Linked DNA regions of Homo sapiens: region 1 is linked to region 2. Evidence: fine-mapped expression QTL. Tissue or cell type: lymphoblastoid cells. Region 2 holds a variant in brackets; the other region holds the start of a gene. All regions are shown on one strand. Distances are between the middles of the regions.

The links. PIP is the estimated chance that this variant, and not a neighbour inherited with it, causes the effect.
Region 1: it holds the start of FAIM, and the variant in region 2 is fine-mapped to the expression of FAIM in lymphoblastoid cells (TwinsUK, PIP 0.95).

Annotation. Positions count from the first base shown.
Region 1 is chr3:138,605,928-138,611,568 of GRCh38, reverse strand. It overlaps FAIM (Fas apoptotic inhibitory molecule), which reads right to left and starts at 2,798. Exons shown (of 6, transcript NM_001033031.2): 1 at 2,632-2,798. RefSeq lists an enhancer at 2,061-2,150 and a silencer at 2,251-2,710.
Region 2 is chr3:138,551,016-138,556,656 of GRCh38, reverse strand. The region is part of intron 6 of CEP70 (centrosomal protein 70); the gene reads left to right. Among named protein-coding and RNA genes, the nearest start is that of CEP70, 40 kb to the left of the region's middle. The variant C/TC (reference allele first, on the strand shown) is at 2,457.

The sequences.
Region 1 (5,641 bases), 55 kb before region 2:
AGTACAAATATCCAAACCATAGCACAGAGTTATTGCTTAATGGTTACTGTGTTTCTGTTTAAGGTATTGAAAAGTTTGGCAAATAGATAGTGACAATGATCGCACACTATTGTGAATGTACTTAATGCCCCTGAATTGTACACTAAAAAATTGTTAAAATGGCAAATCTATGTTGTATATATTTTACCACTTCAAAAAGTTAATTATATTAGAAAGAATTGTATACTTTAAATGGGTGAATTTTATGGTATGTGAGTTATATTTCAGTAACGTTGTTAAAAAAAAAAACAAAAAAAGAAAAAAAAATGCAGGTGTCCTGGCTGTAGTGTTTCTTGGGATGCAACTGCACCTGTAACCAAAAGATGATAACATCTGTCCTTGTCCCCAATTTCCACTTCACTCAGAAATATCTGTCACATAGATCTCTAAGTTACAAATTCAATTTAATAAACACATGTCATATTCTAAGTTCATCCAGCATACCAATAGTTATTGGGTACTTATGTACCAGGCTCTGGGCAGGGCACTAACCTCAGAGTGGCAGAGTCCGGAGATACCAAGAGATGATTATAGCACAACAGTGGGAGTGTCCTTATAAAGGGAAGCAGCATAGGATAGAATGGGCCATAGAGGAAGGGTCGTAGCTCTGCCGAAGAAGGCTTTGGTTTAAAACTTTGGAGAAAGTGGCCAGGCGCGATGGCTCACACCCCGTAATCCCAGCACTTTGGGAGGTCAAGGCGGTCGGATCACTTGAGGTCAATAGTTCAAGACCAGCCTGGACAAAACGGTGAAATCCTGTCTTTGCAAAAATAGAAAAATTTGCCGGGCATGGTAGCGCACGTCTGTAAATCCCAGCTACTCCGGAGGCTGAGGCACAAGAATCGCTTGAACCCGGGAGGTGGAGGTTGCAGTGAGCCGAGATCATGCCACTGCACTCCAGCCTGGGTGACAGAGGGAGATTCTGTCTGAAAAATAAAAAAATGAAACTTGGGAGCAAGAAATTAATCCACTGTTGTTTTTAAACTCTTATGCATGTACTTAATTTTCAAGATTCTATGACCAAACTGGAAAATGATAAATACAAAAAACCCTCTATTTTTGCAAATATTTTATTAAAATGTAAATTTAAAAAGATGAAAAACCATATTCCACTTACTTTCACTGATGGAGATGATACCAAGCACTTGAAACTTTTTACATGTCTTTAAAGAAAGCTTTTTGCGTATCTCATACGTACCCATCAATCTTTTAAAATCCCTTCCCTAGCAACCCAACACCTAAGTTTCAGAGCATGACTTAAACACCAACACGTTGCCACTGTTCATCTAATCCACCTGAATTTTGCCTTAACTTAGGTTTATTCTTACTGGGGACTGAAATGGTTCGTTCAAGATAAACCGAAGTCAGTTTAAAAATTACTAGATGATAGTAGTTACTAAGATGCTCATGGTTCCCTTTTCAGCAAAGGCCCCCAGGTAGGGCCAGCCAATAATGCAAGTCACACTCAAGTGTTGACATCTTCATCTCCGGGCCGGCCCCTTATGAAGTGAGGGGGGTCTCCAGTAAAATCACTCAGGAAGCTCCTCGAGCCAAGTATTCCCAAATGCTACTTACTGGAGGTACAAAAAGGAGAATAACTTTTCTGAGGGCCATTTCACAATCTATACCAGAAGCCTTGTGGTATAGACCGTGGATTCTATCTTGTTTTAGAACGAATCTTGTGCGATTCTTTCTACAGAAATGATCACGCTCAAAAACCCAGATACAACGATGCTCAATGAATTACTTTTTGCAATAACTAAAAACTGAAAACCACTTGTACGCTCACCATCAGGGAGAAACTACATTTAGTAAATCACAGTCCAAAGCCATGCCAAGAGTCAGGGATGGATGAGGTAGTCAACCTGACACACAGGAATGTACAGTCGAGAGAGAGAGAGAGAGAGAGAGAGAGTCGAGAGAGAGAGAGAGAGAGTCGAGAGAGAGAGAGTCGAGAGAGAGAGAGAGAGAGAGAGAGAGAGAGAGAGAGAGAGAGTTTCAGCACTTTATGATGCAGGTTCTGCAAAAACAAGCCCCGCTCATGTTACAAGGAAAAACCATCTGGAAGAATATACACCCTCATGTTAACGCAGCTTGTCTCTGGGGAGCAGCGGCACGGCTGCTTTGCTTGCTTCCTTGCTTTCTGTTCCACGTTTTCGACAGTGAGAAGTATTATCTTTAGAGGTCGCGAACAGGCCGGAGGAGGGTGCGGCAGGTCGCGGGGCAGGGCCTCGCTAGGCAGGGACGCCCCCGCACCGCCCCGGGCTGGCCCCGCGCCCCGCGCCCCGCCGCACCTCCACCTTTGCCGGCGGTGAGCGGGAGCCGCGTCCCGCCCCGAGGTCTGGGATCACCGGCGGGCCGGCTGGAAGCGTCCGGAACTCACCCAGCGTCTCACCCGCGCGGGTCTCACCGACCGCGCAAACACCGCCCGCCGCCGCCGCCCAGAGATGGCCGCCGCCGGCGCAGCAGGGCCGAGAGCGTGGGGACGCCGGGGGGCTGAGTGCAGGGGTTTCCAGGGTGCGGAGCGGGCGGGCCCGAGGCGTCCGGGCGGGCGCAGGCGCGACACCGACCCCACCCGGTCTGCTGCCTCACCTGTGCTCTGTGGGCCGCGGGAGGCTCTGGGGTAGGTTTCACCAAACAACCGGTTGGTTCCGACTCGGCTGCGTAGGCCGCGTGGCCTTGCTCCCCTGGCCGAGAAACAGGCGCAGCCGGCGCGGAGGTTGAAAGCTCTGCAGGCGCGAGTACCAAACGCGCCGACTGTTTGTCGCGCCTCTCAGGTCCCCTGGGGCGACCAGCGCAGGAGGCCACCCCTCCCGCCGCCACGGACCCAACCCTGGTCCTCTGCCTTAGCCGAAGGCCGCACCCTCCGCGCATAGGCCTTCCTCAGCCCCAACCCAGGACATCACCATGTCCCGCAGTGCGTCCAGTCTTCCTGCCAGCAAGTGTGGGTAGGAGCCGGCCGCTGGCCCCGCTCTGGGCTAGACGGTGGGGACATACTGGCGGGCAAAAACAGCCCTGTGCCTGCTCTGCAGCTATGGGGAAGGAATATCTGTTCATGGCAGCAATAGCATTCGCTCCTTAAAACCTCTTTATGAGTCTCATTCCTTTTTTAAAGACCCAAACTACTTAAGGTGGGCATGAAGCCCCCATGTGTGATCTAGCCTCTGCCTGCTTGGCTTCATTTAGGTCCTTAAAGGATGCAGGTTTCTTCTCGCCCAGGGCCTCTGCAAATGCTCTTCTCTCTGCCTGGACACTCCTCACCTCTTCCCTATTGTGAGAGTTCTTCATATATCATTTCTTAGATTACACTATCCTGGCCCATAAGACTTGCAGCATTGCTGGGTGTGGTGGCTCATACCTGTAATCACGGCATTTTGGGAGGCAGAGTGGCGGATCTCTTGAGTCCAGGAGTTCAAGACCAGCCTGGGCAACATGGTAAAAAAAAAAAAAAAGAGAGAGAGAGAATGAGAAAGAAGAAAAGAAAATAATTAGCGGCTCAGGCCTGTAATCCTAGCTACTTGGGACGCTGAGGTGGGAGAATTGCTTGGGCCCTGAAGGGAGGTAGAGGCTGCAGAGAGCTGTGATTGCACCACTACACTCCAGCCTGGGCAACAGAGCGAGACCCTGTTTCATTAAAAAAAACACACACAAAAAGAAACAGCCGGGCTCAGTGGCTCACGCCTGTAATCCCAGCACTTTGGGATGCTGAGGCAGGCATGGCAAAACCCCGTCACTACTGAAAATATAAAACTTAGAGGGGCGTGGTGGTGCATGCCTGTAGTCCCAACTACTTGGGAGGCTGAGGCAGGAGAATCGCTTCAACCTGGGAGGTGGAGGTTGGAGTGAGCTGAGATTGAGCCACTGCACTCCAGCCTGGGCGAAGAGCAAGACTCTGTCTCAAAAAAAAAAAAAAAAAAAAACAGCCGGGCACAGTGGCTTACACCTGTAATCCCAGCACTCTGGGAGGCCAGGTGCGGATTGCCTGAGGTCAGAAGTTTGAGACCAGCCTGGCCAACGTGGTGAAACCCTAGCTCTACTAAAAATACAAAAATTAGCCGGGCGTGGTGGCATGCGTCTGTAATCCCAGCTACTCAGGAGGCTGAGGCAGGAGAATCACTTGACCTTGGGAGGTGGCAGTTGCAGCGAACTGAGATCGCCTCACTGTACTGCAGCCTGAGCCACAGAGTGATACTTCGTCTCAAAAACAAAAACAAAAAAAACACAAAAATTGCAGCACCAGGGATTCTTCTTCCTAGCCCCTTTCAGGGTGTGCAATAATTTGTGTAATTTTTGCTTAATGTGTAACTTAACAGTAGACTGAGATCCATGAAGGCAGAGACCATGGCCGCTTGGCTCTCATTCTTGTATGTCTCACATCTGTACCGTGCAGGCCCATGTTAGCTCTGGTAAATATTTATTAAATGAATGAATGAATGAAGAGCAGGCCTGGGTAGTGTCTTAGGTGGCCTTGATTTTCAATTTAAGGAGGAGACAGTGTTGCCTACAGAGAGCGAGAAAAGTTGTTGAGTGGGCCATGTGAGGAGCAGTGAATGGTCCCTGTGGAGAGTAGGCCCAGTCATAGAATAGAGATAAGTGAAGGGATTTTGGAGGGTTTTGAGGGCCCAGCATATTTGGGGGCTGCTATGGTTTGGATGCTGGTATCTCCCCAAAATTCATATGTTGAAACCTAAGACCCAACACATTCATATTAACAGGATGGATCCTTTGTGGGGGAAATTGGTGCCCTTGTGAAAGAGGCTTGAGGGAGCCTGTTTGATCCTTCTGCCATGTGTGGATGCTCTGAGAAGGCACCATGTTTGAAGCAGAGAACAAGCCCTTAGCAGACTGTGACTCTGCTGGAGCCTTGATCTTGGATATCCCAGCCTCCAGAACTGTGAGCAATACAATTCTACTGTTTATAAATTACCCAGTCTAAGTTGTTGTATTTTTGTTGTTTTTTTTTTTTTTTTTTTTTGAGACAGGGTTTTATTCCAGGCTGGAGTGCAGTGGCATGATCACAGCTCACTGCAGCCATGATCCATGTCCTGGGCTCAAGCGATCCTGCTACCTCAGCCTCTAAAGGAGCTGGGACTATGGCTACATGCCACCACACCCGGCTAATATTTTAAAATTTTTTTATAGACACAGGGTCCCACTATGTTGCCCAGGCTGGTCTCAAATTCCTGGGCTCAAGCAATTCTCCAACCTTGGCCTTCCAAAGTGCTGGGATTACAGGCATGAGCAACTGAACCTAGCCTTTCTCCTGCTCCTCCTCCTTCCTCCTTCTTGCTTCTTTCTTCTTCTTCTTCCTCTTCCTTTCTTCTTCTTCTTTTTTGAGTATTTTTATCGTTGTTGTTGTTGTTTGAGACAGAGTCTCACTCTGTCGCCCAAGCTGGAGTGCACTGGCATGATCTTGGCTCACTGCAACCTCCGCCTCCCAGGTTCAAGCAATTCTTCTGCCTCAGCCTCCTGAGTAGCTGGGACTACAGGCGCACGCCACCACACCCAGCTTATTTTTATATTTTTAATAGAGATGGGGTTTTGCCATGTTGGCCAGGCTGGTCTCGAACTCCTGACCTCAGGCGATGCACCCACCTTGGCC
Region 2 (5,641 bases):
TTTCTCTCTTTTGTACTCTGTCCCTTTATTTCTCAACCCGGACGATGCTTAGGGAAAATAGAAAAGAACTTACGTGACTGTCGGGGGCAGGTTCCTTGATAATTCTTTTTTTTTTTTTTTTTTTTTTTTGAGACAGAGTCTCACTCTGTCACCCAGGCTGGAGTGCAGTGGCACAATCTAAGCTCACCACAACCTCTGCCTCCCGGGTTCAAGCAATTCTCCTGCATCAGCCTCCTGAGTAGCTGGGACTACAGGCTCCCACCACCATGCCCAGCTAATTTTTGTATTTTTAGTAGAGATGGGGTTTCACCATATTGGCCAGGATGGTCTTGATCTCCTGACCTCATGATCCACCCACCTTAGCCTCCGAAAGTGTTGGGATTACAGGCGTGAGCCACCGTGCCCGGCCCGTTGTATCTTTCTCATGCCTTTGCATTGTCATAGCTTAGCTCCCACTTATAAGTGAGAACATATGTTCAGTTTTCCATTCCTGAGTTACTTCACTTAGAATAATAGTCTACAATCCTGTCCAGATTGCTGCGAATGCCATTGATTCATTCATTTTTATGGCTGAGTAGTATTCCATCGTGTATGTATACCACAGTTTCTTTATCCACTTGTTGATTGATGGGCATTTCAGCTGCTTCCACATTTTTGCAATTGTGAATTGTGCTTTTGTATAATGTTATACATTATATGAATTGTACATTTGTGTAATGACTTCTTTTCCTCTGGGTAGATACCCAGTAGTGGGATTGTTGGATCAAATGGTAGTTCTACTTTTAGTTCTTTAATGAATCTCCACACTGTTTTCCATAGTGGTTGTACTAGTTTACATTCCCACCAGCAGTGTAGAAGTTTTCCCTTTTCACCACATCCACACCAACATCTACTGTTTTTTGATTTTTTGATAATGGGCATTCTTGTGGGAGTGAGGTGGTATCACATTGTGGTTTTGATCTGCATTTCCCTGACCATTGGTGTTGTTGAGCATGTTTTCATGTGTTTGTTGGCCATTTGTATATCTTCTTTTCAGAATTCTCTATTCATATCCTTAGCTCACTTTTTGATGGGATTATTTGTTTTTTCTTGCTAATTTGTTTGAGTTTCTTGTAGATTCTGGATATTAGTCCTTTGTCGGATGTATAGATTGTGATGATTTTTTCCCACTCTGTGGGTTGTTTGCTGACTGTTCCTTTTGCTGTGCAAAAGCTCTTTAGTTTAATTAAGTCCCACCTATTTATCTTTGTGTTTCATTTGCTTTTGAGTTCTTGGTCATGAAATCTTTGCCTAATCCAATGTCTAGAAGGGTTTTTCTGATACTATATTCTAGAATTTTTATGGTTTAGGTCTTAGATTTAAGTCATTTAAGTCCTTGATCCATCTTGAGTTGATTTTTTTTTTTTTTGAGATGGAGTCTCAATCTGTCACCCAGACTGGAGTGCGATGGCATACTCTTGGCTCACTGCAACCTCCCCCTACTGGGTAGAAGTGATTCTCCTGCCTCAGCCTTCCGAGTAGGTGGGATTACAGGTGCCTGCCACCATGACCAGCTAATTTATGTATTTTTAGTAGAGACAGGGTTTCACAATGTTCGCCAGGCTGGTCTTGAACTCCTGACCTCAGATGATCTACCCGCCTCCCAGAGTGCTGGGATTACAGGCATGAACCACTGTGTCTGGCCTTGAGTTGATTTTTGCATAAGGTCAGAGATGAGGATCAAGTTTCATTCTTCTACATGTGGCGTGCCAATTATCCCAGCACCATTTGCACAGCAAAAGGAACAGTCAGCAAACAACCCACAGAGTGGGAAAAAATCATCACAATCTATACATCCGACAAAGGACTAATATCCAGAATCTACAAGAAACTCATTTGCTGAAGAGGTCTTTCACCTCCTTGGTTAGGTATATTCTTAAGTACTTTATTTTATTTTTACAGTAAAAGGGATTGAGTTATTGATTAGATTCTCAGCTTGGTCACTGTTGGTGTATAGCAGAGATACTGATTTATGTACATTAATTTTGTATCCTGAAACTTTGCTAAATTCATTTATCAGTTCTGGGAGCTTTTTAGAAAACTCTAAGGAGTTTTCTAGGTATACAGTCATATTGCCAGTGAACAGCAGTAGTTCGACTTCCTCTTTACTGATTTGGGTGCCCTTTATTTCTTTCTCTTGTCTGATTGCTCTGACTAGAACTTCCAGTATTACTGTTGAATAGAAGTGGTGAGAGTAGGCATCCTCATCTTGTTCTAGTTCTCAATAGAAGTGGTGAGAGTAGGCATCCTTATCTTGTTCCAGTTCTCAAAGGGAATGCTTTCATAATACTTTTCCAGTATTATGTTGGCTGTGGATTTATCATAGATGGCTTTTATTACTTTGAGGTATGTCCCTTGTATGCTGATTCTGCTGAGGGTTCTAATGACAAAAGGATGCTGGATTTTTTTTTTTTTTT[C/TC]ATATGGAGTCTCACTCTGTTGTCCAGGCTAGAGTGCGGTGGCATGATCTTGGCTCACTGAAATCTCCGCCTCCCAGGTTCAGGCGATTCTCCTGCCTCAGTCTCCTGAGTAGCTGGGATTACAGGCATGCACCACCATGCCTGGCTATTTTTTGTATTTTTAGTAGAGACAGGGTTTCATTCACCATGTTGGCCAGGCTAGTCTTGAACTACTGACCTCAGGTGATCCACCCACCTCAGCCTCCCAAAGTGTTGGGATTACAGGTGTGAGCCACCATGCCTGGCCTGGATTTTGTTAAATGCTTTTTCTGAGTTTATCGAGATGATCATGTGATTTTTATTTTTAATTCTGTTTATATGGTGTATCACATTTATTGACTTTTGTATGTTAAACTATCCCTGCATACCTGGTATAAGACCCACTTGATCATGGTGGATTATCTTTTTGATATGCTGTTGAATTCATTTAGCTCATATTTTGTTAAGGATTTTTGCATCTATGTTCATCAGGGATATTTGTCTGTAGTTTTCTTTTTTTGTTATATCTTTTCCTAGTTTTGGTATTAGGGTGATACTTTCTTTATAGAATGATTTAGGGAGGATTCCCTCTTTCTCTGTCTTTTGGAATAGTGTCAATAGGATTGACACCAATTCTTTGAATGTCTGGTAGAATTCAGCTGTCAATCTGTCTAGTCCTGGATTTTTTTTTTTTTGTCTTTTTGAGATGGAGTCTCTCTCTGTCGCCAAGGCTGGAGTGCAGTGGCCCAATCTCAGCTCACTGCAAGCTCCACCTTCAGGGTTCACACCATTCTCCTGCCTCAGCCTCCCAAGTAGCTGGGACTATAGGCACCCGCTGCCACGCCCAGCTAATTTTTTTGTATTTTTAGTAGACACGGGGTTTCACCGTGTTAGCCAGGATGGTCTCGATCTCCTGACCTCGTGATCCACCCACCTTGGCCTCCCAAAGTGCTAGGATTACAGGCGTGAGCCATCGTGCCCAGCCGGTATTTTTTTTTTTGAAGGCAGTATTTCGTTCTCACTGCTTGTTATTGGTCTGTCTAGGGTTTCGAATTCTTCCTGATTTAAACTAGGAGTTGTGTCTTTTTAGGAATTTACCCATCTCCTCTAGGTTTTCTAGTTTATGTGCGTAAAAGTTTTGATAGTAGCCTTGAATGATCTTTTGTATTTCTGTGGTGTCAGTTGTAATATCTCCCGCTTCATTTCTAATTCAGCTTATTTGAATCTTCTCTCTTCTCTTGGTTCATCTTGCTAGTGGTCTATCAATTTTATTTATCTTTTCAAGGAACCAGCTTTTTGTTTCATTTATCTTTTGTATTTTTGTTTGATTGTTTCAGTTTCATTTAGCTCTGCTCTGATCTTGGTTATTTCCTTTCTTCTGCTGGGTTTGGGTCAGGTTTGTTCTTGTTTCTCTAGTTCCTTGAGGTGTGACCTTAGATTGTCTAGTTGTGTTCTTTCAGACTTTTTGGTGTAAGCATTTAAGGTGGTGAATTTTCCTCTTAGCACCACCTTTACTGTATCCCAGAGGTTTTGATAGGTTATGTCACTATTATCTCTCGGTTCAAAGAATTTTTGAACTTCCATCTTGATTTTATTGTTGACCCAATGATCATTCAGGAGCAGGTTATTTAATTTCCATGTATTTGCATGGCTTTGAAGGTACCTTTTGGAGTTGATTTTCAGTTTTATTCCACTGTGGTCTGAGAGAGTAATTGATATAATTTCAATTTTCTTAAATTTTTTGAGACTTGTTTTGTGGCCTATCATATGGTCTATCTTGGAGATAGTTCCATATGCTGATGAATAGAATGTATATTCTACAGTTGTTGGGTAGAATGTGTTGTAAATATCTGTTAAGTTTATTTGTTCCGGGGTATAGTTTAAATCCATTGTTTCTTTGTTGATTTTCTGTCTTGATGACCTGTCTAGTGCTGTCAGTGGAGTATTGAAGTCCCCCACTATTATTGTGTTGCTGTCTATCTCATTACTTAGGTCTAGTAGTAGTTGTTTCATAAATTTGGGAACACCAGGGTTAGGTACATATATATTTAGGATTGTGATATTTTCCTGTTGGACAAGGCTTTCTATCATTATATAATGTCCCTGTTTGTCTGTTTTTTAACTGCTGTTGCTTTAAAGTTTGTTTTGTTTGGTATAAGAATAGCTACTCCTACTCGCTTTTGTCCATTTGCATGGAATGTCTTTTTTCACCCCTTTACCTGACATTTATGTAAGTCCTTATATGTTAGTTGAGTGTCTTGAAGGCAACAGATGATTGGTGAATTCTTATCCATTGTGCAATTCTATATCTTTTAAGTGGAGCATTTAGGCAATTTACATTCAACATCAGTATCAAGATGTGAGGTACTATTCCATTCATCATGCTATTTTTTGCCTGTATACTTTGGGTTTTGTTTTATTTTATTTTTTTTTTTTTAGATGGAGTTTCACTCTTGTCACCCAGGCTGGAGTGCAGTGGCGGGATATCGGCTCACTGCAACCTCTGCCTCCTGGGTTCAAGTGATTCTCCTGCCTCAGCCTCCTGAGTAGCTGGAACTACAGACACACGCCAACATGCCTGGTGAATTTTTGTATTTTTAGTAGAGACGGGGTTTCACTATGTTGGCCAGGCTGATCTTGAACTCCTGACCTCAGGTGATCCACCTGCCTCGTTCTCCCAAAGTGCTGGGATTACAGGCATGAACCACTGCACCCAGCCAGATTTTTTTAATTGTATTTTTGTTTTATAGGTCCTGTGACATTTATGCTTTGAAAAGGTTCTGTTTTGATGTGTTTTCAGGATTTGTTTAAAGATTTAGAGCTCTTTTAGTAGTTCTTGTATTGCTGGCTTGTTAGTGGTGAATTCTCTCAGCATTTGTTTGTCTGAAAAAGACTATCTTTCCTTTGTGAAGCTTAGTTTCTCTGGATACAAAATTCTTGGCTGATAATTGTTTTGTTTAAGGAGGCTAAATATACGGCTCCAATCCCTTCTAGCTTATAGTTTTCTGCTGAGAAATCTGCTGTTAATCTTATAGGTTTTCCTTTATAGGTTACCTGGTGCTTTTGCCTCACAGCTCTTAAGATTCTTTCCTTTGTCTTGACTTTAAATAACCTGATGACAATGTGCCTAGGCAATCTTTTTGCGATGAATTTCTCAGGTGTTCTTT